Linked DNA regions of Homo sapiens. The protein of the gene in region 1 purifies or fractionates together with the protein of each later gene. This does not show direct contact. Each region holds a gene or a part of one and is shown in the gene's direction. Other genes may lie near its edges.

Region 1 (7,027 bases):
AAGTCCAGAGTATACTTTTTATAAAGACACCAGTCATATTGGATGTTTAAAATGACCTCATCCTAACTAATTACATCTGCAAGGACCGTCTTTCCAAATAAGATCACATCCTGAGGGTACTAGGGGTTAGGACTTCAACTTATGAATTTTGGGGGAGAGATAGTCAACCCATAATGGGCATAAGAGACCGGGAGTGGTATATGAAATATAGTTTGAATTCCACCTCAAGACCTTGAGCTTATGACTTCTGTCTAGCTCTGTGTATCATTCATACTTCCCACTAATTTTTAACAAAATGACTGGGAGAGGGAGAAAGTGAAACCCAGTGGACTGAGGCTTGAGTGAGCATTACCTCCTGGGCCTGTTGATTTGCGTCTCCCTGGTGACCTTCTTCTCTGACCAGCATCCGTGGGCTTAGGGAAAGCACGGTGGTGGAAATGTGATCCTGGTGTGTGAGATGCAAACTTGATCTTAGCCTTTGCTCTCCCTGGAAACTTATCGGTCAAAACTTTCACTAAAGGCAGTTTTTTGTCTGTTTGTTTAGGTTTACTGGTTATTTATTATTTATAGCATGGTTAAATTGGGTCAAATTTTTATGAATTGTAAGTAGAGAAACTTTTCTAATAAGAGGAAAGGATAAGAAATCAGACCTTTTTGTAAAGAAAATTACCCCACTTAAAGTCCTGGTTTATTTTAGGCCGTTTGGCAGTGAGAAGAAGGGATTATTTGTGTCTGACAGAGGTCTACAAGGAAAAAGGTTTGGGATCAGAAAACACTTCCAACCAGAATGACGGTTCCCTGCCAGTCCTTGGTCTTTCTTCCTCCCTTCCTTCTGTGCCCACATGGACTAATTATGTCTGGCTTTCCCTCCCTCTTCCTTGTATATTTCCCTTCCATATCAAGACCTTCAGAATGAGGGCAATGTGGATAATTTCCCAGTTTTCCAGCTGGGCAGCTCACCAAGAACAAACCCAGACATCAAGGCCAGACCAAAAAAATCTTCTTGTTTTAGACAGAAGACTCCTACATCTGGGGGATTTAATGCACCCACTGTCCGCTCAGTGCATTTCCTGTGTCCGGAGCTTCTCTGCCTGCCGGCTCTGGTCTCGTAAGTTTCCATGCCCTGCTGCCAACTTATAATAACAGAGGCGGCAGGCAGCAGGCTGAGAATGTCATAGCCTACTCCATACATGGGCACTGCTTTGCAGACTGAAACAAAGCTTGCAGGGTCTCATTGCAGGCCTCTCAGCCTTGACAGTGGTTGTGCCCAGACCACCAGGAGCCTGGAATTAAATACCCTCGGATCCAGTTCTCTACTGTTAATGTTATCAGCTTCATCAAGTACTTCCTCTTTGAGTGATATCTGTGGAGAAATAAATAAATCAAGCTCCTCCAAGTCCTGTTCCTGCCTGGATCCTGAGTCCAAAGTAAAATCTGAGTTGGATTATCCAAAGCACTATCACCCTCCTGCATTGTTCCCAAGGTCTGGGCAGGAACGGAGAGTGAAATCTCTCCAGGACATTACATCAGTTCCTCCTTTACCCTTGGCATGAAAGTTCTTCCTCTCCTGGTCCTCCCAGACTTCCTAAGGCCTGCCCTGAGTGCACACCCACACACTAAGCCTTGAAGCCCAGGACATCAAAGAAAGCCTGCAGGTAACCAGATTACTGACCAACGCCTGTGACCGTTTTGAAATTTATAAGATGGGAAATGGATTCAGGAAATGGGATTTTTCAATACATGGTCTTCATCATCCTTAAGTATTTTTAAGCCTTAATAAGCTTTTAAGTAAAGAGAGACATTCTGTAAATGGCATTTAGAAGAAAATATAGGAAAGTTCAAACTGGAACTGTCTTCAATAGTTGTTTACAGTGATCATATTCTGTGACAAATGAAAAGTGGACCAGGGACAAAAGATAAATACATTTCTATGGGCAGCAGAATTGACATCCATATTATCTATAAAAGGAAAGTTTGCCTTGTCTACAAAAGATTACAGATCATTTTAGTTGGTGCCCAGTAAGCATTTCTATGCATTTGGGTTAAAGTGAGGAAGTTAGTGCTTGTCTTTCCAACCTATATCCTTGCAAGGTTAATTAAGCACTTTAAAAAAAAAAAAGCTTTTTATAACAGGAAATATCAAACCTATACAAAAGTAAAGAGAATTGTGTAATGAATCACCATGTACCCATCACCAGTTTTGATGATCAACTCAAGGCCAATCATGTCTTCCTCTGTGGTCTACCTCCTCTCTCCTTCACCATCCCAGATTATTTTACAGCAAATCTCAGATATATAATTTCCCTTGTAAATAGTATCAACAGGCTGGGCGCGGTGGCTCATGCCTGTAATCCCAGCACTTTGGGAGGCTGAGGTGGGCGGATCATGAGGTCAGGAGATCGAGACCATCCTGGCTAACATGGTGAAACCCTGTCTTTACTAAAACTACAAAAAATTAGCCAGGCATGGTGGCGGGCACCTGTAGTCCCAGCTACTCAGGAGGCTGAGGCAGGAGAATGGCGTGAACCCGGGAGGTGGAGCTTGCAGTGAGCAGAGATCACGCCACTGCACTCCAGCCTGGGTGAAAGAGCGAGACTCCGTCTCAAAAAAAAAAAAAAAAAAATAGTGTCAACATAGGTCTCAAAAAAAGACTATAAAATCATAATAGAACCATCATATCACTTGAAAACTAGTAGTTCCTCGGTATCATCAAATAATCTGCTAGTGTTCACTTTTTGCCAACCATCTCATAAATGTTTTTTACAGTTTGGATCAGAATCCAAACAACATCTATACATTGCAGATGGTTAACGTATCTCTTAAGTTTTTTTCAACCTATAGGTTCCCATCTGCAACCTTCTTGTGTGTGTGTTTGAGCAGTCCCTCTCTTCAGGTTTTTTTAAAGAAGTCAGCCATAATTAGTATATTCGTATATATAATATATTATATATATTAGCGTAGGCTTATATATACTATGTAAGTATATACTTATATAGTATTAGTATATACTATATATCATATATACTATAATCATATATAGTATATATGGTGTGTGTGTATATATATACTATATATCATACTATGCATATATAGTATATTAGTATAATCTCCCCCTGTACATAGTTTCTTTTTTTCCTCTGGTTGCTTTCAAGATTTTCTCTTTATTTTTGGTTTTCAGCAGTTTGACTATGGTGTACCTGGGTGTGGTTTTTATTTTACATATCTTACTTGAGATTCTTGGACCTTCGAATTTACTGTTGTTGATAATGTTGTTACCAAATTTGAGGACAATCTAGCCATTATTTTTTAATTTATTCTACTCTGTTTTTTTCTATATTCTCCTTCTTGGACACCAATTACATGTGTGTTAGACCACGTGATATTGTTCCACAGGTCACTGAGGATTTGTTTTGTTTGGATTTCATTTTTACTGATCTGTCTTCAAATTTTCTAACCCTTTCTTCTCTCATCTCCGTTCTGCTATTAAGTCCATCTAGTCCGGTCTTTCATTTCAGATATTATACTTTTCAGTTATAGAATCTTTATTTTGCCTTTTTTTTTAATTCCATTTCCCTTTTGGCAGCCTGTATGTGTCATCATTTATTACAACCATGATTTTCTTTTAGGGCTTGAACTTATTTATAATAGCTGCTGTAAAGTTTTTCTGTTTGTTTGTGTTAACTCCAACATCTGCATTATCTCAGGTTCTGTTTCTTTTGATGGCCTTTCCTCCTTATTATGAGTCACATGTTTGTATTTCTTCTCATATCTAGAAAATTGTGACTGGATGCTGAGCACATTGAGACACTGGATTGTGTTCTATTCCACTGAAGAGTATTGACTTTTGTTCTAGGAGGCAATCAAATTACTGGCCAGTTACTTTGAATCTGTAGAGGCATGGTCTTACGTTTCATTAGGTCCAATCTGTTTCTATTTTGCCTTTTGCCCTTAGCAGATCCCCTTGTCCTAGGGTTTTTACTCCTACATTGTGGCCATTCTGGGGTAACAAACAGCCTGAAGTGTTTACAGAGCCTTTGAACTTGATGAGACTCAAACTCTGAACTCTGTCTCCACTGCAGTAGCCAGTAGCTGAGGTTTCCGCTTAGATCTTTTGATTATACAACTGTTGCTTTTCACTGAACTCCAAAGGGTCTCCCTGGCACTTGGGCTATTCGGTAATCAGACAAGAATTTGAGGAAGCTTTTACATGCCAATTTAATCACTCTCCCCTCTGTGGCTCCCACTGTATGGGATTTGTTTCTTCAATTTTCTGCCATTCTGGCAGCTACCTACTCTATCTCAAGCAACTTTCTGTTTATCTTCTAACTGCCCCTGTGCTGCACGGACTGGGGAGGAACATGCAGCATAGGGCAGTTAGGAGATCAACAGAATCAGGGGGAAAGCTGTTTAAATATGGACCTCACTCTGTGCAGTTCCCTTCTTTCAAGAGTGAAATCCTCTCCGGTTTTTGTCTGCCCTTGATACCTTCAAATAGTTTTTTCAATGTATTTAATATGGTTTCTTTCATTTCTACCCGTAAGAAGGTTAGTTTGGTACACGCCACTCTGCTATTGTTGAACTGAAATTGCCCCTTTCCTTGTTTAGATAAGTGGTGGCAGATCATAAATACTTCATCTTGCTTTTCGTATCTAACCATAGATTCTGATGCTAGTCCTTAGCAAAATATCAAGATACTCCTCATTCCTTTTTACTTTTACGTAGTACTCCATTTTTTAGAGATATATACTATAATTTATTAAATCAGTCTTCTATTGATAGCTATTCCAATGATGAGGCACTTGAATTTATGGCAGTGGGTTATACAGTAGTCACAAAATAAGCCCTTTGCCTTCAAGGAGATGATCTTTTAATATTGTGAACAATATTTTTGTTCAGTGATCATATGATAGATGAGATCTAGTAGAACTTTCAAAAAAGAAAAAAGTCCGCATTTTCTTCTTAACCCTGTGTAAAACTTAAAACCACTATGTCTGTCTCTGTTTACTGACCCTATCAAATTACGGAATTCACTTTATGTGTTCTTCATATATGTATATTATCTTAATGGACAAAGGTGATATGTTTGACTTGCTTTACTTAGAACTGTGGACAATTCTTTGACCAGAACAAGGACAGCAAGCATGCACATCCTTTTGGTGAGACTGCCCTGGGAACAGATGTGGCCAGAGAGAGTTCATTGAGTTGGGTGTGGAGCCGTGTAGAAATCCCCATTTTTATGGGCAGATTTCTGTCCTTCTGCACCTTAGCAGGGACTTCTGGAGCCAGGTGTGTGCCGGTCCATTCCCCGACCCAGCCCTCAGAGCTACTTCTCTTGCTGAGCTGTGTACACTTCTGATGTTATCCTCGCTCACATGTCACCAGCTTGCAACTTTGAGTGGGATGAGTTAGAGGTGTCCATCCATCCTGCTTCTTCCTTACTTCTGCCTGTCTCTGAGCACTCAGGAGCAAAGTGCTCCCAAAAGTTCTTTCAAGTTCAGTAAGATTGTCATTCTGTAAATTGGGGCCACTGTGCATGCTTAGAGCAGGTTTTGGTGTGACTTTGTGTCATAGTTTCTATATTGCAGTGACAGATGTTGTCATGAGTACACAGGTTCTAGAATCTGACTGGAGTCTGGTTCTATAATCTCCTAACTGGCTGTGTGACCTTGGGTAAGTTATTTAACTTCTTTACGCCTCAGTTTTATCATCTGTAAAATAGGGGTACTAGTGGTATCTCTTGGTTAGGAGTGTCATGAGTGTCATAAGGTTGGGGGTTTTTTTCTTTTTTCTTCTTTTTTTTTTTTTTTTTGAGACAAAGTTTTGCTCTGTCACCCAGGCTGGAGTGCAATGGTGTGATCTTGGCTCGCTGCAACCTCCACCTCCTGGGTTCAAGCGATTCTCATGTCTCAGCCTCCCGAGTAACTGGGATTACAGGCGGGAGCCACCGCACCCAGCCAGGAGTGCTATAAGTTTTAAACAGTGAAATCCAGCATCTAAGATATAGTTATTACTAATAATTATTACTAATATTATTAACATTATCACTAATACTAATAACTCCTAGAGTTAGAGAATATGAAAATTTTAGTTGTGAAAATGTAAGTCAATGAAAGCATCTAGAGAGAAACCTGTAAGAACCCTTCCACCTCTGAAAGCGACGTAGAAGAGTTAAATGATGGCCAAAAGATGGGGCATGGAAGTTTGGCTTCCTTGTGCCTACAGGCCACAGGTAGGTCATTAACGGAATGCTTGTAGACATCCTTAGGTTGTCTGGCAATAGAAAAATAGTTTCAATATGCACACCTTAAGGCCAGGCGCGGTGGCTCACGCCTGTAATCCCAGCACTTTGGGAGGCTGAGGCAGGCAGAGCACGAGGTCAGGAGACCCAGACCATCCTGGCTAACACGGTGAAACCCCATCTCTACTAAAAATAAAAAAAATTAGCCGAGCATGGTGGTGGGCGCCTGTAGTCCCAGCTACTCGGGAGGCTGAGGCCGGAGAATGGCATGAACCCGGGAGGCAGAGCTTGCAGTGAGCCGAGATCGTGCCACTGCACTCCAGCCTGGGCAACAGAGTGAGACTCCATCTCAAACAGAAAAAAAAAAAAAATATGCACCCTTCAAATTGTTAAGCAGTGAAAAAGACACTGCATTCTGGGGAGAAAGGTCCTTTACACATACCTACACGCTCCTCCATTTACCGCCTGTAGAGCCGCAGGGAGTTTCCTGTCCTGCCAACTCACTGGGGTCTGTGATTGTCTTTCCCTCTGCTCCACAGATAACTGTGTCCAGAGGACCCCCAGGCCATCCGTGGATAATGTGCACCATAACCCTCCCACCATTGAACTGTTGCACCGCTCCAGGTCACCTATCACGACAAATCACCGGCCTTCTCCTGACCCCGAGCAGCGGCCCCTCCGGTCCCCCCTGGACAACATGATCCGCCGCCTCTCCCCGGCTGAGAGAGCTCAGGGACCCAGGCCGCACCAGGAGAACAACCACCAGGAGTCCTACCCTCTGTCAGTGTC
Region 2 (5,778 bases), on another chromosome or scaffold:
ACTCTTTGCATAGGCTTGCCTTTCTGACATTTGGACATTTGGAAGGTCCTTTTTTCTTTTTTTTTTCTTTTTTTTGAGACAAGGTCTTGCTTTGTTGCCGAGGCTGGGGTGCAGTGGCACAGTCTCGGCTGACTACAACCTCCATCTCCCGGGTTCAAGCAATTCTCCTGCCTCAGCCTCCCAAGTAGCTGGGACTACAGGCATGTGCCACCATGCCCAGCTAATTTTTGTATTTTTAGTCGAGACAGGGTTTCGCCATTTTGGTCTCCAACTCCTGACCCTGGGTGATCCACCTGCCTTGGCCTCCCAAAGTGCTGGGATTATAGGTATGAGCCACTGCGCCCGGCCCCTTATTCCTTCTTGGTGCTTGACCTGAAAACTGGGGAGAGCTGCCATCTTGTAGGCAATGAAACTTTGGCCATGTCTCTGGAGTCTGGGGAAAAAGCATACTTTTAAGCTGAAATCCACATCACAGCCATGAGTTTAAATATGAAAGTAGAACTTTCTTATCCAGACAGCAAATATAAATGCTAAAGGACTTGAATTTTTAATAAAAAGAAAACCCACCTTGAACCAGGTTGCAATATAACACATGTAATTACATCTCCTTCAACTGCGTAACAGAATGGTTGTCAAGCCTTCCTGCATATTTCTCATTTGCTTTCTATAGATTTCACCTTTACAACTTTCTTCCTCTGGCAATCCCCAAATAATTTACACCAAATATCTGTGTGAGCTTGTTTCAGACTTATTGTTGTTGATGATATTAAATCATTTTGGGGAGGAGACTGATCAGAAGCGATGAAGCAATGATATGCATGCTGTACCCTCTGGCCACCTCCACCTTAGCGCAAAGTGGAAACTGCTTTCTAGCTTTTGCTCTCAGCTTCTCTCTGCTTCATCTGTTGGGCATAAGGGATGAAATTCGCAACAGGGGAAACCTATGGTTTCTTCCTCTCCTCTCACTGAGGTTCTCTGTAGCCCAACTGATTTATTCAAAGCTTCTATAGCTTTTATAAAATAGTATTTTATAAAAAGTGCTTTCAACATTATTTCTGCTCTAACGATAAACCTGTTTGTTTCCTTATAACCTATTTCCACTTAATAGGACCATATTTCCTCGTTAGTATCTGTTATGAATATATTTCATTTTTAACGTGGCATTTAAAAGGTAAAGTGCTTAACTTAAAATGTTTCCATCCCTGGGTGCCAGGTACCCCTTCAAGTACCAAATTGTATTTTTGGCAGAAGAAAGAACAGTTTCCTTCTCAAATCCCTGGTCCACATCTCTTCAAGTTCCATAGTTTGTATCGAAGCCATTCCTAACAGCTGTATTTGTTTCTATTCTAAAACCCAAGATCCAATTCAAGACTTCAACAAACGGAGGGTTTTGGGGCAGTTGAGTCAAGGGGTATCTTGGAGGCAGGGATTCTGATAGTAACTTAGTAATGACTTCTCCCACATAGTGACAATAATCAGAAAACCTTGTGATACAGGTAAAAGTGGAATATGGCTGTGTATTAGTTACCTACTGCTGTGTAAGAAATTGCCCAAACCCTCAGCAGTGTAAGATAACATTTAGTCTCACAGTTTCTGTGAGTCAGGAATCCAAGTGTGTCTTCACCGAGCTCCCTCAGGCATGGAGTCTCTCACAAGGCTGCAATCAGGTAATGGCCAAACTGCAGTGATCACAAGGCTCAGCTCGGGGAAGACACAGCCCAAGCATGCTCACATGGGCTACAGGCAAGACTAATGTCTCTGGCCAACAGCCCTCAAGGACATCAGTTCCTTGGCACATGTTCCCCTTTACAGGGTAGCTTGCAACATGGCATCCAGCTTCCCTCAAAGGGAGCAAGAGAGAGCCCCTAAGGCAGAAACCAGTTTTTTGAGACCGAATATCGGCAGTGATAGCCTATCACTTCTGCTATACTCTATGCACTAGAAGAAGCAAGACACTACTAATGCAGCCCAAACTCAAGGGGATTGCTTAAGGCTATAATACATGAGGAGATGGAGATCACTGGGGGCTGCTTAGATGCTGCCTACCACAGGCTACATGGCTATTCTTTTACAATCTTGATTTTTAACTTACAGCAACTTGTACTGGACAGACTGGAATAGAGAAGCTCCTAAAATTGAAACGTCATCTTTAGATGGAGAAAACAGAAGAATTCTGATCAATACAGACATTGGATTGCCCAATGGCTTAACCTTTGACCCTTTCTCTAAACTGCTCTGCTGGGCAGATGCAGGTAATACTACTGATGGAATGCAAATAGATAACCTCTCATCACAGTGAATGTGAGCACTAACAGATTTTACTACAAAATGAAATCCCATCACTTAGATCTCCTTTCTTTGGTCTGTAAACTTTTAAGTACTAGTAAATTTAAGTACTAGTAAATGAGTCTTAAAATGAACTTTCTGGGGTTTGGGTGGAGGGAAGGATATATCAAGCAGTAAGTTTGTACTGCTTGCCTGACCATGAGTGCCTGGCATATTTTTAACAGTTAAAAGAATTAGCCATTGTTGAATTGACAAACTTAAGTGAAGTTATTCTTATGCGGGGAGAGGGTCACTATAACTTACCTATAAACATCTGTTATAATGCTAAGGACATTCTTTGGAAAGCATTGTAGCAGGGTAGCTTCCTTCAGTAATAACATGGGTATTAGCAACCTACATTTGTTTGCTTTTATCAGCACAACTGAAAAAATGCTGTGTGTCTAGTTCTATACTAAAGAATATGAAAAAGACTGTTCTTGAATTTGTAATCTAATAAAAGGGCCTAATGTACATAGGTCACTTTTATAACCCAGTTGTTTAAAACAAGTTACATTTCTTAAAAGGATTTGAAATTTAAATCGGCTCCATGAGAAATGTGAAACTTGGAAATTCTTGAATGGTTTAGCTATTGTAAAAATTTTTAAGACTGATTCCTTTACATTGAAATATGAGTTATGTTACCATTTTAGTCACTTTTTTCCTCCTACCTAGAAAATATTTTAAAAATACTAAGGATTTTGGTTAAAAGGTTGCCTCAGTAATTATAGACATAGCTTACAAAGGGCAAGTATTTACCCAGATGTTATAATTTATAAGCTAAGGCTTGAAATCACACAAATTATAAAAATAATTATGTTTAATGCCCTACTTTGGCAGAAACTTACCAGATTTCAGTAAATGCAATCCTGTCTTCCAAAAAAGGATTGAAAGTTTGAATCTCTACTAAAAACTGGAGACTAGTAATAGGACAGGTAATTTTACAGTTGCTAATCTATGACTGTAATGGAAGTAAAATATCCTATTTCCCCATTCTATCACTGTGTCACTATCACTATGTCACTATCATTTTTGGCAAAGCAGCTGAAGGACCTCATTTTCCCCCTTTGTTTTAAAAGGAACCAAAAAACTGGAGTGTACACTACCTGATGGAACTGGACGGCGTGTCATTCAAAACAACCTCAAGTACCCCTTCAGCATCGTAAGCTATGCAGATCACTTCTACCACACAGACTGGAGGAGGTGAGCCCCACAAATTCTGGACAAGCCTGAAAAGGCCAACTGTTCCAGAGGACACACCACTTGTTTTACCAAAAGTCAGTACCTGACTTGACTCATTAAGCCCTCTGAGGCTTTTGTTTCATCACCTCCTCATTGGCAGATAAGATCCTTCAAGGATGTTTTTCATCCTTTCATGTTTTTGAAATCATCCTTTTACTTCACCCAGAAATCGAATGGTATTGCTCACATATAGCTTAAAAAGTAGCAAAGCTATTGGATAATGTCTCAAAAGGGAGCATATTAATCTAAATATGTTCTTTAGAGAATAAGACTACCCTTGATACCATGAGCTATATTACAGGGCTTAAGTTGGCTTTTGACACTGTGGACATATTGTCTGAGGGACCGAAAAATACTATTTAGACTAGTTCTCAAATGAGGAACTGTGGAACATTAAAGTCTAAGCCCTTTACACCATGCCCTACAACTCTGATTTGATAGCTCATCATGTGATTCTAACATGCAGCTAGAGATGAGCAATGGATTTAGAGCAATGGTCTTCAAACTTCAGTATGGCTTTAGCACCAGCCCTGGGACAGAGAAGGCTGCCAGAAATTTTCCTCTATTGCAACTGATTTTCTGTGGCTGACTGACTTCTTTATCTAGTAAATGACTGTCCCTGAATTCACTCTTCCTTTCTGTTACCAGGGATGGTGTTGTATCAGTAAATAAACATAGTGGCCAGTTTACTGATGAGTATCTCCCAGAACAACGATCTCACCTCTACGGGATAACTGCAGTCTACCCCTACTGCCCAACAGGTAAAAAGTATGCTTTAGGATGCTCCTTTAAATTAGCAGGGTAGAGAAGGGATATATATGGTATTTGATTACCCCTGCTGCCTGTGACACTGCCACCATTGCCTTCTTCCTGCCCTGAGGGCCAGTCTTTACTACCTTAAATCTACCTAGTTTATACACAAAATGCAAAGACTTGCTGTTGCAACTTGGTTACAATATACTCACCCACCACCCTGTCCCACCCCTGCTCTTCTCTCACAGGAAGAAAGTAAGTACAGTAATGTAAAGGAAGACTTGGAGTTTACAATCAGAACCTGGACCCTAAAGAACAGTGACTGCAAAGGCAAAGAAAGTAAAAAAGGAATTGGCCATTAGACGTTCCTGAGCATCCAAGATGAACATTTTGTAGTGCAAAAAGACTTTTGTGAAAAGCTGATACCTCAATCTTTACTACTGTATTTTTAAAAATGAAGGTTGTTATTGCAAGTTTAAAAAGGTAACAGAATTTTAACTGTTGCTTATTAAAGCAACTTCTTGTAAACATTTATCATTAATATTTAAAAGATCAAATTCATTCAACTAAGAATTAGAGTTTAAGACTCTAAACCTGATTTTTGCCATGGATTCCTTCTGGCCAAGAAATTAAAGCACATGTGATCAATATAACAATATAATCCTAAACCTTGACAGTTGGAGAAGCCAATGCAGAACTGATGGGAAAGGACCAATTATTTATAGTTTCCCAACAAAAGTTCTAAGATTTTTTACCTCTGCATCAGTGCATTTCTATTTATATCAAAAGGTGCTAAAATGATTCAATTTGCATTTTCTGATCCTGTAGTGCCTCTATAGAAGTACCCACAGAAAGTAAAGTATCACATTTATAAATACCAAAGATGTAACAATTTTAAAATTTTCTAGATTACTCCAATAAAGTGTTTTAAGTTTTCCTATGACTTAAGGATCTATATTGTCTCTAGGACAAAGCTGGGGGTTGGCATATATGCCTTAACCACAAAGGAGAAAGGTGATTTATGCAAACATACAGTACATAATAAAAATTCTACTTTCCTAAACTTTATTAAAGAAAAAAGCAATAAGCAATGGTGGTAAATCTCTAGAACATACCCAATTTTCTGGGCTTCCTCCCCCGAGAATGTGACATTTTGATTTCCAAACATGCCAGAAGTGTATGGTTCCCAACTGTACTAAGTAGGTGAGAAGCTGAAGTCCTCAAGTGTTCATCTTCCAACTTTTCCCAGTCTGTGGTCTGTCTTTGGATCAGCAATAATTGCCTGAACAGCTACTATGGCTTCGTTGATTTTTGTCTGTAGCTCTCTGAGCTCCTCTATGTGCAGCAATCGCAGAATTTGAGCAGCTTCATTAAGAACTGCATCTGTTTTATGAGAAAAGAACACTGCTTCAATACATAATTTTTACATTTAAGGCCATTTATTTCCTCCCAAGTATTCAG
Region 3 (7,817 bases), on another chromosome or scaffold:
GCACTCCAGCCTGGGTGAGACAGCTAGACATTATCTTAAAATAAATGAAAAATAAAAGTAAGGTAGAAAGAGTATTTTTAAAAGTCTTATTGGAGGTTCACATCAGCACTGAGAGATAAGAAATAGAGCAGATATCATGATTCCCACTTTTTGAATGCAGAAACTGAGGCCCAGAGAGGTGAATCCAGCCTGTGTCCTTCACACCCCAGCTGGCTCATAGAAACCATGGCCTGTTACCAACCAAGCCCTCCAGAGCCCAGCACTGTAGGCCGATGGCGGCCTTCCCTGGCCTGCTCCTGGGGCAGGTTGCTGAGAAGCATTGCCTGTTTTGGGGAGAGGCCTGCGGCAGCCTGAGGAATGAGCCTGGCAGTGGGCACTCTCACTGGGGCCTCCTCCGGCGCTGCCCTCAGGAAGATTCTGTGGCTCCCAAAGCCCCAGGGGCGCCTCTGACCACAGCAGTCAGTCCTGCCGGGTTGGGGGGGGCTCTTGTGCCCAGCGTAACTTCACAGAGCCAGCACGTTCCAGCCTGGGAGGGAAACCAAAAGGCACTTTGCCCAAGTGTCACCGGGCTGAAACGACATCCTCATGGGCCCCTGTCCCCGGAAGCAATGAGATTGGACAGGTGCTGAGCCCCTGTTACTTCATTGGGATGGACTTGCATCTAAGGAACGAACTGAGAGTGAACATTTCCAAATTTGAGGCCTAAGAAAAGTTTGTTGGCCTGATGAGCTGTGACAGGCAACCGTCTGGGGAAGTGGAAGCTCAGCACATCCTCCGGTTACTTATTACGTTACTGAAGGGTCTAAAAATGACTGTCCTTGGGGTGCTGGAATCCTGCAGAATAAAATAGTGCTGAATTTTAATTCATTCTTTGCAAATGAATGTTCTCAAGGCTCCGGTTGGAGTCAGGCACCCTGGGACCTTGCAGTAGTGTGCTTTGGGTCCCAGGCCACAGCACAGCCCCTTTCTTTTTTTTTTTCTTTTTTGAGATGGAGTCTTGCTCTGTCGCCCAGGCTGGAGTGTAGTGGCGTGATATCGGCTCATTGCAACCTCTGCCTCCCGGGTTCAAGTGATTCTCCCGCCTCAGCCTCCCGAGTAGTTGGGATTACAGGCGCCCGCCACCAAGCCCAACTAATCAGCTAATTTTTTTTTTTTTTTTTTTTTTTTGAGACGGAGTCTAACTCTGTCGCCCAGGCTGGATGGAGTGCAGTGGCGCAATCTCGGCTCACTGCAAGCTCCGCCTCCCAGGTTCACGCCATTCTCCTGCCTCAGCCTCCCAAGTAGCTGGGACTACAGGTGCCCGCCACCACGCCCGGCTAATTTTTTGTATTTTAAGTAGAGATGGAGTTTCACCATGTTAGCCAGGATGGTCTCGATCTCCTGACCTCGTGATCCACCCACCTCGGCCTCCCAAAGTGCTGGGATTACAGGCATGAGCCACCTCATCTGGCCTTTTTTTTCTTTTTTTTAGAGACGGAGTCTTGCTCTGTCGCCCAAGCTGGAGCATAGTGGCTCAATCTCGGCTCACTGCAACCTCTGCCTCCTGGGTTCTAGCAACTCTCCTGCCTCAGCCTCCCGAGTAGCTGGGATTACAGGCACATGCTGCCATGCCCAGCTAATTTTTTGTATTTTTAGTAGAAACGGGGGTTTTACCATGTTGCCTAGGCTGGTCTTGAACTCCTGACCTCGTGATCCACCCTCCTCGGCCTCCCAAAGTGCTGGGATTATAGGTGTGAGTCACCGCATCCAGCCCATAGTCCCTTTCCTCTCTGGGAGTCTCTGGTGGCCCCTTCATAATGCTTTTTTTTTTTTTTTTTTAATTCTTGGTACATTTTCTATGTAATCATTTCAATAACTGACTGTCCAGTAGAGTCTTTAGTTTTTCTGTATCCCTTCCCAAATTTAGAAACCTGACTTGAACTTTGGGCCAGTTGTAATGTGTCCTCTATGACAGGCCATCCTGGGCCCCCTTCCCTTTGTTCCTGTGGCTGGAGCCCTGAGCAGGCCCCATCCACTTGAGTCCAAGAGGCCCTCTCTCCTGGCTGCTACCATTGTACCCACCTGCTGGCCAGGCCCCCACAGGGGCCTCTTTCCTCCTGACAGTCTCATCCCCACTCAGCAGCCAGAGTGCCTTCTTTATAAATGTAGATCAGATCCTTTCACTGTATTTGTTCATCCAACACACATTTACTGAGCACCTACTGTGTGCTAGGCCCTGGTACGGGCACAGGAAACACATCAGGGAATAAAACTACACTCTCTGCTCTCCTGGAGCTTCCATGCTAGTGGAGAGAAGAAAGATACGTAAACATGTAATGAGTCAGGTGGTGATGAGTACAAAGGAGAAAAGTAAAGCAGAGAAATGGAGTAGAAAGTGCTGGCAATAGTGGGTGGTGGTGGTGGGGGGTGTGGTTTGCAATTTTCAACAGGGGTCCTCAGGCCTGACTGAGGAGCTGAAGAGGTAAGAGAGTGAGCCACGAGGCTAAGTGGGGTGAAAGAGTTGGAGCAGAAAAGGTGGGAGGATCACCAGGCATGATGGCCCCTCTCTGTAGTCCTAACTACTAGAGACAGGCTCATGCCTGTCATCCCAGCACTTTGGGAGGCCGAGGCAGGTGGATCATCTGAGGCCAGGAGTTCAAGACCAGCCAGACCAACATGGTGAAACCCTGTCTCTACTAAAAATACAAAAATAAGCTGGGCGTGGTGGCACATGCCTGTAATCCCAGCTACTTGGGAGGCTGAGGCAGGAGAATTGCTTGAGCCTGGGAGGCAGAGGTTGTGGTGAGCCAAGATTGCCCCACTGCACTCCAGCCTGGGCAACAGAGTGAGATCCCATCTCAAAACAAAACAACAAAAGCTAACTACTTGAGAGGCTGAGGTGGGAGGATTGCTTGAGCCCAGGAGTTTGAGGTTGCAATGAGCTACGATCACACCACTACACTCCAGCCTGGGCCACAGAGTGAGACCCTGTCTCAAAAAAAAAAAAAAAAAAAAGAGTCCCAGCAGAGAACAGCAAGCACAAAGGCCCTGAGGCAGGAGTGCACCTGGTGTGTTTGAGAACCCACAGAGACACCACTGTGGCTGGAGCAGGGTGAGATGTGGGAAGGGAGTGGCTAAGGAAGCTGAGAGGTCAAGGAAGAAGTGTGGTTGGAGCAGGCCCTGCAGGTGCCGAAGGCTTTTGCTTCTTTCCTGAGATGGCAGCCCTCACGAGCCCTGGAGCTTCCCTGGCTGCCATGAGATCAGGTGGAAGGGGGTCGAGGCTGCAAGTGGGGACGCATGAGTGGGTGACAGGTGGCAGTAGTAGAAGTGTAAGAAGAGCTGGGAGTCTGGGTCTCTTCTATCTTGAAAATAGAACCCCAGGCTGTGCTGGTAGAGCTGGATGCAGGGTGGAAGAAGGGAAAATATTTTTGCTGCTTAAATCCTAGCCTGGCTTCCCATTGCTCGTGGGGTGCATTCTCGATTCCTCTTCCCCGCCTGAGGTCTGACATGTGCTGGCCCTGGCTGGCCTCTCCTGTACCTTCTACCACCAGCTCCAGCTCATGGCCTGATGTGGTTCCTCCCCCGAATCCAGCGACCAGGCTGCCCTCTGCCCCAGCGCCTCCTCCGTGGATGTCTGCTCTTCCTGAACTGCCCTCCCACCGGACGGCTGCTCCTTGGTAGCAGCTCAAGTGTCCTTCCTTCCCTAAGCCAGTTTCCCCAAACACTGCAGCACAACGCCCTTCATTTCTCATGGCATTCTTCATGGCCTGTCAATGGGGCTTTTGTTGTTTTAATTTTCCGTCTTCTTGTTTTTGTTGGTCTTCCTAGAATATAAACCCCATGAGGGCAGAGGCGTTCAGCCTGACTCCAGCCTGGCAAAGCTGTCACAAATCTGGAGGAACACACACGTTCACGGGCACTCAGTTCTGTGAGGTACTGCAAGCCCTCTCTGAACCTGCAAGGTGGCCATTGCTGTCCCCACTTTACAAAGGAGGAAAGAGTGCGCGGAGAGGTTCTACTTAGACCCGCCAAGGGCACAGTCGTTCTAGAAAGTAGCAGACTGGGAGTTCCAACTTGGGCTTGCTGGTTCCAGAGCCCCTTCTGTGCCCCTTCCAGGCTGTGCCTGGGTGAGATTCTTCTCCTACCAGCACGTCTTCTTCCTGGAGGGTTCAGTGGCTGAGCTGACACCGGTGGGCAAGAGGCCCTGGCGGGCTTGTTGAAGGACTCAAAGGTGGCGTCTGGGAGCCTGGCGGGACTTTCTCCCTGTCAGCCTAGAGGCACTTTTAGAGGAGTGTGTCTGTTTCGCAGTCTTCGTGTCTCATAATTCATAACTAAGGTAGAGGGTACACATTTAGTTTACAGTAAAACCTCAAACCCACCTCCACTCCCAGCCGGCCACTTCTCTCCCTGTTCCCTTCTCTGCCCTCCACAGGTGAGAACAAGTGTCCGGGGCCGCCCCGTGGGGCCCCAGGCTGCCCGCCCTGAAACTGCCTCGCTGTGTGCCCTTGGGCAACCCCGCCCTGCTCCGTGCCTCAGTTTCCCCACTCATAGAGGCTCCACAGGTGACACACCTGGCTCCGGGCCCCGATCGGCCGCCGGGCCCCGCGGGGCGGAAACCCCGCGCCAAGCCTCCCGGAGGCACCTCCAGGGCAGGGCGGGGAGCGCGGGGAGGGGCCGCGGGGACCTGCGCCGCTGGGGCCGCCTGGCCGCCGGCCGGCTCCGGGGGGCGCCCGCGGGAGGGCGCGGCCGGTGCGGGGGGCGCGGGTGGCGGCGGCGGGGGGCGGAGACGCGGCGCGGCTTCCGCTCCCGCGCGCCCAGCTCCCTCCTCCCCGTCGTCCTGGTCCGCGGCGCCCGAGGGGGGAGGCGGAGGCGCCGGGAGCCGCGCGAGGAGCCGCCGCCGCCGCGCCATGGAGCCCGAGTGAGCGCGGCGCGGGCCCGTCCGGCCGCCGGACAACATGGAGGCAGCGCCGCCCGGGCCGCCGTGGCCGCTGCTGCTGCTGCTGCTGCTGCTGCTGGCGCTGTGCGGCTGCCCGGCCCCCGCCGCGGGTAGGTGGGCGCAGGCCGGCCGGGGGCCGCGGGTTGCTCGGACAATGGCCCGGGCGGCCCCGCGGCCAAGTGCGCGGGCGCCGCCGCCGTCTCGGAAGCGACTTGGCGAGTTGGGAGCGAGTTGGGGCGCGCGCCCGGGATCCCCCTGCCGTCCCCGGCGTCCCCGCCACGCGCGGGCCCTTTGTCTCCCCACCCGGGCCCTCCCCGGGGACGCTGCGTCCCGGGCTGGCGAGGAGGGCGCCCGCTCCGCCAGGTGCGGCGCGGGCGGGTCCTCACCTGCCCGAGCCCGCGGGAAGCCGGGAGCCGAGCCGAGCCCGCGCTGGGCCCGTGTGGCCCGGGCCGGGCACCGAGCGGGGACTTGGGGCGCGGAGGCGGGCCTGGCCCGGGGAGCCGGTTCGCAAGCCTGTTTCCAGCGGCCGCGCGGCCGCCCCGCGTGCTCCGAGGACGGGCTGAAGTTGCAGCGAGAAAGTTCTGAGCCCGGGCGCGGGGCGGCCTGGCCGGTGGCGCTGCTCCTGTGAGCCGCGTGGCTGTGGGTTTCCAAGCGGACTGACACCTGCCAGGTGCCCGGGCGACCCGAATGCCCCGTGTGGCCGCCGGGTCCCCAGATAGTGTCCATCCCCGGGTCGGCTACGCGGAGGTGACGTGGTCCCAGATCGCGGGGCAGTGGGGGAGGCAGGCTTGTGCCTCAGTTGTACACTCCCGTGGGGAGAGGTAGGGCGGGGGAACTTTCTCTCCAACTTTTGGTGTTTCCCAGGGGGTGGAGTTGAGGTCAGGAGGACTCAGGAAACTTAAGCAGTCGTGAAACGCTACACATGTTCTTTTAATTTGGAGATTGCCATGTGGTTTTTCAAGCAAGCCTCTTGCTACCTAAATCATTCTCTTCGGATGTGCGTGTTTTGTTTTTCTGGAGTATGGCTGGCCAAGTGGCACGGCCGCAAGTGCCTGTGCACGCCGCGGCTCCTGTTCTGTTTGTGGCAGTTTAGCGGGGAGGACCTCGGGCCCCTTTGTCTGGGCCTCCTTAAGGCAAACAGCTGTCTCCCTGAATATTTCCAGTGTGAATGGTGCAGCGGGGTGGCCCTGTAGTCAGATCCCCCAGGCTGCAGCCTCTGCTTGGAGGTGTGGGGGACAGCGGGGAACAGGAGGAGCTTGGAGTTTGTTTCACGTCCTCCTGCCTCTGACCCAAGCCTAGAGATTCTATGGACAGTTTCACCCCAAATCTGCCTCTTTCAGGAGCGTGTTTACATTGTGGGGCCTTGTCTGGAGCTAGCAAAACAAGGTGAAGACAAAACAGCGACAGTATCTGGGGAGTACAGGCCAGCGCCGCTCCTTTTTCCGGAAATGCCTGGGTCAAGGAGGCAAAAGGGGTTTTGGGGAAACTGTTTGTTTTAAAGGGGGGGTTTCTAGGCCGACCGCGTTGCCTTTCACCTCATTGCAGTTTTGGGTTTTGTGCACGTTTTGGGGTGATGTTGCTGGAGTCAAATGCCTGTCGTCCATGTGGTTCGAGCCCCTGAGGAGAAAGAATTATAGCTGTAGAGTTCAGTTGTGTGTGAGGCAAAAATAGAGTTGATTATTTTAACATTAGGCAGCAAGGCCTGGGAGCCCCAGTGAATGTGGTGATCCAGGCCTAAAATGGAAGGAAAGGGAGGAATCTTTCTGCAGAACGGTTTTGATGTTATATCCCTGGTTTTACTGTGTGAAATACATGCCTCGGACCTCAGCGAAGCCAGTAAGTGGGCCGCTAATTATTTTTCCTGATTGCTTCCTGTTGCAATTGGAAGCTGTGAACGCACGGAAATGGCTTTGTTCTAGTGGTCCCAGTGCTGAGAACTTCCCCAGCTCCCAAGCCCTAGTCCTCTCTCCTCGGGGCCCAAGTGCTTGTTCCAGGGCCGGCCTGTCCAGGCACCCCCTCTCCCCCTGGAGGTTCCTCCTGTAGATGCCCAAGGCCAAGGCCGGGCCCTCTGGGAGAGCCCAGAAGGGCTGAGTGGGGTTAACCAAGTGCTGTGTGGAGCACCCTGAGAGAGTCCCCTCCAAAGCAGGGCCCCGTGTGTTTAGCTCCCCTCTTCAGTTCCAAGAAATTCGCCGGTGAACCCGATCCAGCATTTGTTCAGCACTTTCCTGGGGAGATTCACCTCGTGCTTCCTGTCGTTTTTGGAACCCGTTTAATTTCAGCCGTGCTGTGTCACTGCTCAGGCATTTAGTAGAACTCACACACACGGGTGGGGGATGTAGGCAGGTGAGGCCTCTGAGTTGCTTTCTCCCTTGCAGCGACGGGTTGCAGGGCTGATGGGGGTGGAGGGGTTTGGGGTCAGACCCACCTGGGTTTACATGCTCAGTGGCTGTTTGACTTCGGGCACCATACCTAGTTTCTGTTATCTCACCCCGTTCCTCTCCCAGGCTATGGGGAGCCCTAACTGCCCTGTGTGAGACCTTTAGCCCCATCCCTGGCAGAGCTGCAGTGAGCGCAGTTGTGTGTCAGCGTCCTCGATCTTTCTGGCCCCAGCCGGTCTAGAGGCTGTTATTACAATAGTCTGGATTTTTCCTGTATGACCTTGGACATCCAGTCCACTGACAAACTCACTCACTCACCGCTGCAGCCCTCGGGGGCAGGAGTAGTTAGTTAGCACTGTGGACAGAGCCCCTGCGCCCAGGGTCTGATTCCAGCCTGGCCGCTTCCTGTGCTGGGAGGCTTAGGAAGCTGATGCTACCTTTGTGTGCCTCAGTTTTCTCACCTGTAAAATGGGAATAGAATCCTTCCTACCATGAATTCAGTGAGTTAACGTGCACCTGGCCCG
Region 4 (7,027 bases), 300 kb from region 1:
TGTCAATAAAGGTATCCCAAGTAAGTCAACACTGAATAGTGCATGGTGAATGCACTGTGAATACAGTATGAATGCCAGAGTGAATTTAATAATGTTACTATTAGGTAGTTGGAAAGAGAAGGTACATCCTAGTTTCTTGAAACTTAGATGCAGAGAGGGTGTCATATAATCCCGATACTTTTGTGATTATAATCTCAGAGGAATGAGAGATTTATTGAGATCCCTTTTATCTGTTTTTTGTTGTTACTGACAACAACAACAAAATAAAAAGCATGCTAAGTGGAAAAAGTCCTGAAAAAGACATCAACTGTGTTTACAAGCTCTGTGACCTTACATGAATCTCAGTTTCCATAGGCAAAGCTCTCAAGATAAAATAAAAGATGTTATAAAACAAAATATATGATAAAATAATGTATATGAAGGTACATTATAATTTGAAAACAAATGTGCAAACTTAAGGTGATGATACTGTATTTTTAATTTTGCCACAATTGTTTAATAGAAGAGTTGCATAATCTAAAGTTGCCAGAATTTTTAGAAGGAAGAGTAATATGAGATTGGGGGGAAAAGTGGTCAAATAGAGGCTTATATGGAAAATTTGAAATCATTTTTATAAAATCATCATGTAATTTTGAGAAAGCATTGTAATAGGAATACCAAGATGACTCTTGGATTTTTATACAACAGGCAGTTGGATTTGTTATTTTTAGCTGAAGAATAAATGCATAATTCATCCCCTTCTCTTTTGAATTTAAACCTGAAGGTTATGAATACTGATGGCACTGGGAGACGAGTACTAGTGGAAGACAAAATTCCTCACATATTTGGATTTACTTTGTTGGGTGACTATGTTTACTGGACTGACTGGCAGAGGCGTAGCATTGAAAGAGTTCATAAACGAAGTGCAGAGAGGGAAGTGATCATAGATCAGCTGCCTGACCTCATGGGCCTAAAGGCTACAAATGTTCATCGAGTGATTGGTGAGTAACTCCAAAGCTTTCTTAGAAATGGGAACCAGGAATGAAAAAAGATGGAGATAGTCAGCAGTGTAAATTATTGATGTTTTGAGGCAATTTTGAAACCTTCTTTACTGCCCCCCCGCCTTTTTTTTTTTTTTTTTTTTTTTTTTTTTTTTTTTTACTGAGAAGGGACCTTTTAAACGTTGACTTACTACTCTAGCTACCCAGTTTGAATTGAAGGGCTGAATACACATGCACAGGCACACCTTCATCAAAAGAATTCAGTCTGATAGTATGAATAATATACCTTACTTTAAAGCTTACTGTGGTATTAAAGGAAAATACTTCACCATGCTTTTACTCCCTATTAATCTGCATATTACTTGTTTGTGATATTAGAATTGAAACTTGAGATTGGGAGCAAGACATAATCATAGGCATTTGTGAACCAAACGCTTAAGTAATTTAAAAGTGAAAATATGTTGAATGTATCAATGTGTGTGTCCTTCTGTGCCCCTTTTATAATTAATCTTTTAGGTTCCAACCCCTGTGCTGAGGAAAACGGGGGATGTAGCCATCTCTGCCTCTATAGACCTCAGGGCCTTCGCTGTGCTTGCCCTATTGGCTTTGAACTCATCAGTGACATGAAGACCTGCATTGTCCCAGAGGCTTTCCTTTTGTTTTCACGGAGAGCAGATATCAGACGAATTTCTCTGGAAACAAACAATAATAATGTGGCTATTCCACTCACTGGTGTCAAAGAAGCTTCTGCTTTGGATTTTGATGTGACAGACAACCGAATTTATTGGACTGATATATCACTCAAGGTTAGCAAAAGAATTGGAATATTAAAGCTAGGGACTAAAAGGGAGAACTTCTAGAATTTCTGAATCTTCATGCTGTGACCCACCTCCCTCATTGTTTGACAGGCAGAGTTCAACAAAAACCCTCAAGTTTTTTTTTTTTTTTTTAAACGGTGTCTTGCTCTGTCACCCAGGCTGGAGTGCAGTGGTGCAGTCTCGGCTCACTGCAACCCCTGCCTCCCAGGTTCAAGCGATTCTCCTGCTTCAGCCTCCCGAGCAGCTAGGACTACAGGTGCGTGCCACGACGCCCAGCTAATTTTTGTATTTTTAGTAGTGACGGGGTTTCACCATGTTGGCCAGGCCGCTCGAACTCTTGACCTCGTGATCCGCCCGCTTCGTCCTCCCAAAGTGCTGGGATTACAGGCGTGAGCCACCGCGCCCAGCCAAAACCCTTAAGTTTTTAAGTGAAGGGAAAGGCCCATTCAGTATTTTATTAGATGCTTTTTAATACAGATACTTTGCCAGAGTGTTTTAAATCTGCAAGCCATAGTCTTCCTCTACTTTCTTCCATTTGAAAATGATGAATGACATTTTCTGCAATTAGCTGAGTAAGGAAATGTGTGCTTCACGTAAAATGGCTGTTGATTTACTTTAAAAAAAAATTCGTGATTTACTTTAAACAAAATTTTAGGGCCTGACTGAGGCGGAAAAGGCCAACAATGAGTTATTCTTTATTTTCTTCTTCCTAGAATAGTTACTGAAAAGAATACCAGGATAGCCAGAGAGGAAGCTCCCAACCTATAAATCTGAAGAATAATCTTTTCTTCTTCCAGATTGTTTTGGGCTTGTTTCAGATAACTCATGTAAACTTTTTTGTAATATGCGAAAACATGGGGTGTTGGAGTCAGAGTTGGATTCTAATGGTGTTCAGTTAAATTTATTAAGTGAATAAATGAAATAAATAAATTTTGGTTTGCATTGGGTGATGTTCTAAATTTCCTCATCTTGAAAATGGGGGGTGGCTGGGTGCGGTGACTCAGGCCTGTAAATCCCAGCACTTTGGGAGGCTGAGGCACATGGATCACCTGAGGTCACGAGTTTGAGAACAGCCTGGCCAACATGACAAAACCCCGTCTCTACTAAAAATACAAAAATTAGCTGGTCATGGTGGCGCATACCTGTAATCCCAGCTACTCGGGAAACTGAGGCACGAGAATCACTTGAACCTGGGAGGCAGAAGTTGCAGTGAGCCGAGATCATGCCACTGCACTCCAGCCTGGGTGACAGAGTGAGACTCTGTCTCAAAAACATAAAATAGGGGTGATGCCATACTTGCAGGACTGTTGTATTAAGTGACAAAATCTACGGACAAAACGTACTTAGGATAATACTTGATAAGATGTATCTATTATTAGTTTGAATTATGATTTTTAAAAGTGTTATGGGACTCAGTGCTATAATGGTAGTATAATGGTTACATTCATTTATATGGTAGGCATGATGACTTGCCATAATCTTAAGCACCTTTAGAAAATTGACCACTAATTAAGATCTGTAGCATTGTGGTCACAGCTTTTCCACTTGATTACTGATAAATTTTAAAAGTAAAGTCATTCTGCTGTTAGTAGAATAAATTTTTGGTGCATTAGAGTTTTAAAATTTCTCCCCTGAATTGGCAGTAAAACTTGAAGTTGCATTTATTAGAGATTGACATCAAATTTTTCTGTGCTTGCAAGTTATGTGAATTTTAATAGGAAATAGTATGCCTCTTGGCACTTCTGGATCCTCTTGCCCCTGACAAAAACCAAACCAAACCTTCTTTCTGGATAGGGTTTAGACTTATGCCATATGACTTAGTTGTTAATGTTCTTTTGCAGACCATCAGCAGAGCCTTTATGAATGGCAGTGCACTGGAACATGTGGTAGAATTCGGCTTAGATTATCCAGAAGGCATGGCAGTAGACTGGCTTGGGAAGAACTTGTACTGGGCAGACACAGGAACGAATCGAATTGAGGTGTCAAAGTTGGATGGGCAGCACCGACAAGTTTTGGTGTGGAAAGACCTAGATAGTCCCAGAGCTCTCGCGTTGGACCCTGCCGAAGGGTAAACAGCTTTACATGTGCATTCTTTGCAACTGCAGTGTACATTTCGGGGAACATGGCATAGTTACAGATGATATTCTTAATGTTTTAAATAATACGTATTAGGAATCTGAGAACTAAATGATAGATGAACTTTTAAAAACACTATTGATATTTTGCTGATTTGAATGAATAATTATTAGCTAATTTTACTCTTGTCGTAATTAACTTTAGGTGAAGAAAGAGGGGAATGGGTTAATAAATGTTACTGATGAGTATACTGATATGTTAAGTATATATACCAAGAGGTATTATCCATCTGTAGTTGCTTGCACTCCTTCCCAGTTATACTAGATTCCAAGCCTATTGAAGTAAACCCACCGAAACAATGTTGTGAGCTAAGAAAAAACTACATTTAAAAAGCTTTATTTTGGAGTATTTATTAATTCAAAATGGATAGTTTGGTTTGATCATTATTATAAACTGGCAGTAGCTTTGTTATTACAAGATAGAATAAACTGTTCACAACATGATGTTTTTCAAGGGCGAGTGTTCCTTTTTACAAGAGTCAGCAAATTTTTTAAAGCCGGCAGCTAAGAAATCTGAAATCTAAAGAAAAATTCCACTTATAAAAGAAGTCAACAGGCCGGGCGTGGTGGCTCACGCTTGTAATCCCAGCAACTTTGGGAGGCCGAGGCGTGGGCAGATCACAAGGTCAGGAGTTCGAGACCAGCCTGGCCAACATGGTGAAACCCCGTAACTACTAAAGATAAAAAAAAATTAGCCAGGCATGGTGGCATGTGTCTGTAGTCCCAGCTACTCTGGAGGCTAAAGCAGGAAAATTGTTTGAATCTGGGAGGTGGAGGTTGCAGTGAGCCGAGATCGTGCCACTGCACTCCACCCTGGGCAACAGAGCAAGACTCCATCTTGGAAAAAAAAAAAGAAGTAAACAGTGTGAACATATAAATATGTTTACTGTATTTGCTACTTAAAATAATTTCCCTGAAGTGACATTGATTCCATGATTAGCTAGTAATTCATCTAGTCAGCACTGACATATTGTGGTGATCTTTGCTCTAAACATTAGCTGCCAGACAGATAAATTTAATAGTTGGGACTAATTGGTTGCTGCTGGCAAGTATGAAATTTCTCTCACAGTTGTTTCTCTTTGGCTCTTGTGGTGTGCACATGCCTGTCAAATGACAAGTGCAAATGCATATAAAGGCAGGACACCTTCAGTTTTCAGAAAAGCATGTTCATACATTGCTACCAAGTCAGCTATCAGCTGACAGGCTGATGAGTGAATATATGTCCTCAGGTATTTCGTGAGAGCTGGCATGTGATGTGCTTTTTTAGTTCCAGTATTCAAGAGTCTCAAAAACTAGCACCTCACTAGTTTACTTGAAAGGGCATTTGGCCAAGGATTAGGTTCTAGTTCTAGCTCTGTCATCTAACTGGCTTGAAGACATTAGATAAGTTGTTCACATTTCTTGTAGTGTTTTGGGCTCTTCATCTATAAAAAGCCTATACTGTAGGATTACTGTAAGATTAAAGTGCAAAACTCAAAAATGGAAAATAACAGCAAAGTAATTATTCTAAAATTTCACAGAGATTGTTGTAGCGTAGTGTAGTGTTCATTGCCCAGTGGACACATCAAGGGGTGAGTCGTTGTTCTTACCATATAGTATGCTCCCTTGGACCATATGACCAAATACATTTTCAAGCTTTGCTTTTGACTTCAGTTAAAGGCTTAGTATTTATAATTACCTTTCATGTACTTCTGCAACTTATTTTGAGGAAGAGTTGATTACACAAGTCAAAAAGTAAGTTCAGCATATTAAAAACTCAAATTAGTTAATATTCAAAAGTATATAAAAATATTTTACTCAGAAGTGAACCAGATTCTGAGACCAGAGCTTTAAACCTTTGCTGTTTTCTTGAATGTTAATTTTACAAATGCCAGTACTGCAATAAACTGTTGGTTTATTTCCAATTCCTAGGTTTGGATGGAACAAATGTATTGGAAAGACTAAGGAAAGCTGACTCACTTCCTTTTTGGGATATGGAAAAAAATATTTAGTTTAGGGTGCCAAAATAATTGAAAGCATTGTAGCCGTGATTTTGTTTAACCCATTTCCTTGATTTGCTGTATGTTTTCTTTAAATTTATTTAGTTACTTTGCATGAATATGACTCTTTCCCCCAGATAATAAAAAATTGAAATGTTAAATATTTATTATTTTGAATTTAGATTTATGTATTGGACTGAATGGGGTGGAAAACCTAAGATAGACAGAGCTGCAATGGATGGAAGTGAACGTACTACCTTAGTTCCAAATGTGGGGCGGGCAAACGGCCTAACTATTGATTATGCTAAAAGGAGGCTTTATTGGACAGACCTGGACACCAACTTAATAGAATCTTCAAATATGCTTGGTAAGCTTTACTACTTTTTACTCAAACAGTATATTCTTTCCATGCAAATATCAGTGGCTGCTATTTATCATTGGTTAGATACTTTTAATACAACTTCATATGAATGTGTCCATTCTTCTTCTGTTCTGGAATTGTATCCTGTTTGTTATTAATAGTGATCCAGGTACTTGGATTCATCTTTTTATTATGTGAAAGTTTCATTATTATTGGACTTGTAATGAAATTTATAACTCCCTAGATACTCCTGAAATGACTTTTGTACCAGTAAAATATATATATTTCCATCTTTTCCTTCTATAGTTCAAGAAGAAAAAGTGAACTGTAGACCCTTATATAGAGAAAATAAAACCACATTTAAAGTAGACCATTTGCAAGAATTTTAGGAAACTGAGTGATTTGTAGCAGGAATATAAGTTTGAAGCATGGGGTCAGAAGATAGATTGATTTCAGAGAATTGGTCTCGTTTTAGAATTGCTTTTAAATGAATTTTTCTATTTTAAATTGCTTACAATGTAATGTTTTATATGTTAGGGCTTTTTTTTTTCTTTTTGCCAGCAAGACACTTGTATTCTCACATATTTCATCACTCTGCTTCTCCCCTGTCTACTGCCTTTCTGAAAATAGGGCTCAACCGTGAAGTTATAGCAGATGACTTGCCTCATCCTTTTGGCTTAACTCAGTACCAAGATTATATCTACTGGACGGACTGGAGCCGACGCAGCATTGAGCGTGCCAACAAAACCAGTGG

Evidence for each region.
Region 2: the proteins of ETV6 (region 1) and NID2 purify together in Homo sapiens (affinity purification with mass spectrometry; 3 studies listed by BioGRID and IntAct, with this or other methods). This does not show direct contact.
Region 3: the proteins of ETV6 (region 1) and LRP5 purify together in Homo sapiens (affinity purification with mass spectrometry; 4 studies listed by BioGRID and IntAct, with this or other methods). This does not show direct contact.
Region 4: the proteins of ETV6 (region 1) and LRP6 purify together in Homo sapiens (affinity purification with mass spectrometry; 5 studies listed by BioGRID and IntAct, with this or other methods). This does not show direct contact.

The regions. Positions count from the first base shown.
Region 1 is NC_000012.12:11,862,647-11,869,673, forward strand, and holds part of ETV6 (transcription factor ETV6), read left to right. Parts: intron 1-6,777; coding exon 6,778-7,027. UniProt on the Homo sapiens protein: Transcriptional repressor; binds to the DNA sequence 5'-CCGGAAGT-3'. Plays a role in hematopoiesis and malignant transformation.
Region 2 is NC_000014.9:52,004,284-52,010,061, reverse strand, and holds the end of NID2 (nidogen-2 precursor), read left to right. Parts: exon of another isoform or gene 1-2,094; coding exon 2,095-2,252; exon of another isoform or gene 2,253-3,401; coding exon 3,402-3,525; exon of another isoform or gene 3,526-4,212; coding exon 4,213-4,325; exon of another isoform or gene 4,326-4,565; coding exon 4,566-4,576; 3' UTR 4,577-5,253; downstream 5,254-5,778. Other genes in the region: RTRAF (RNA transcription, translation and transport factor protein), read right to left, coding at 5,546-5,700.
Region 3 is NC_000011.10:68,307,781-68,315,597, forward strand, and holds the start of LRP5 (low-density lipoprotein receptor-related protein 5 isoform 1 precursor), read left to right. Parts: upstream 1-4,810; 5' UTR 4,811-4,934; coding exon 4,935-5,025; intron 5,026-5,668; exon of another isoform or gene 5,669-7,817. UniProt on the Homo sapiens protein: Acts as a coreceptor with members of the frizzled family of seven-transmembrane spanning receptors to transduce signal by Wnt proteins.
Region 4 is NC_000012.12:12,159,032-12,166,058, reverse strand, and holds part of LRP6 (low-density lipoprotein receptor-related protein 6 isoform b precursor), read left to right. Parts: intron 1-763; coding exon 764-980; intron 981-1,496; coding exon 1,497-1,786; intron 1,787-3,639; coding exon 3,640-3,866; intron 3,867-6,094; coding exon 6,095-6,279; intron 6,280-6,903; coding exon 6,904-7,027. UniProt on the Homo sapiens protein: Component of the Wnt-Fzd-LRP5-LRP6 complex that triggers beta-catenin signaling through inducing aggregation of receptor-ligand complexes into ribosome-sized signalosomes.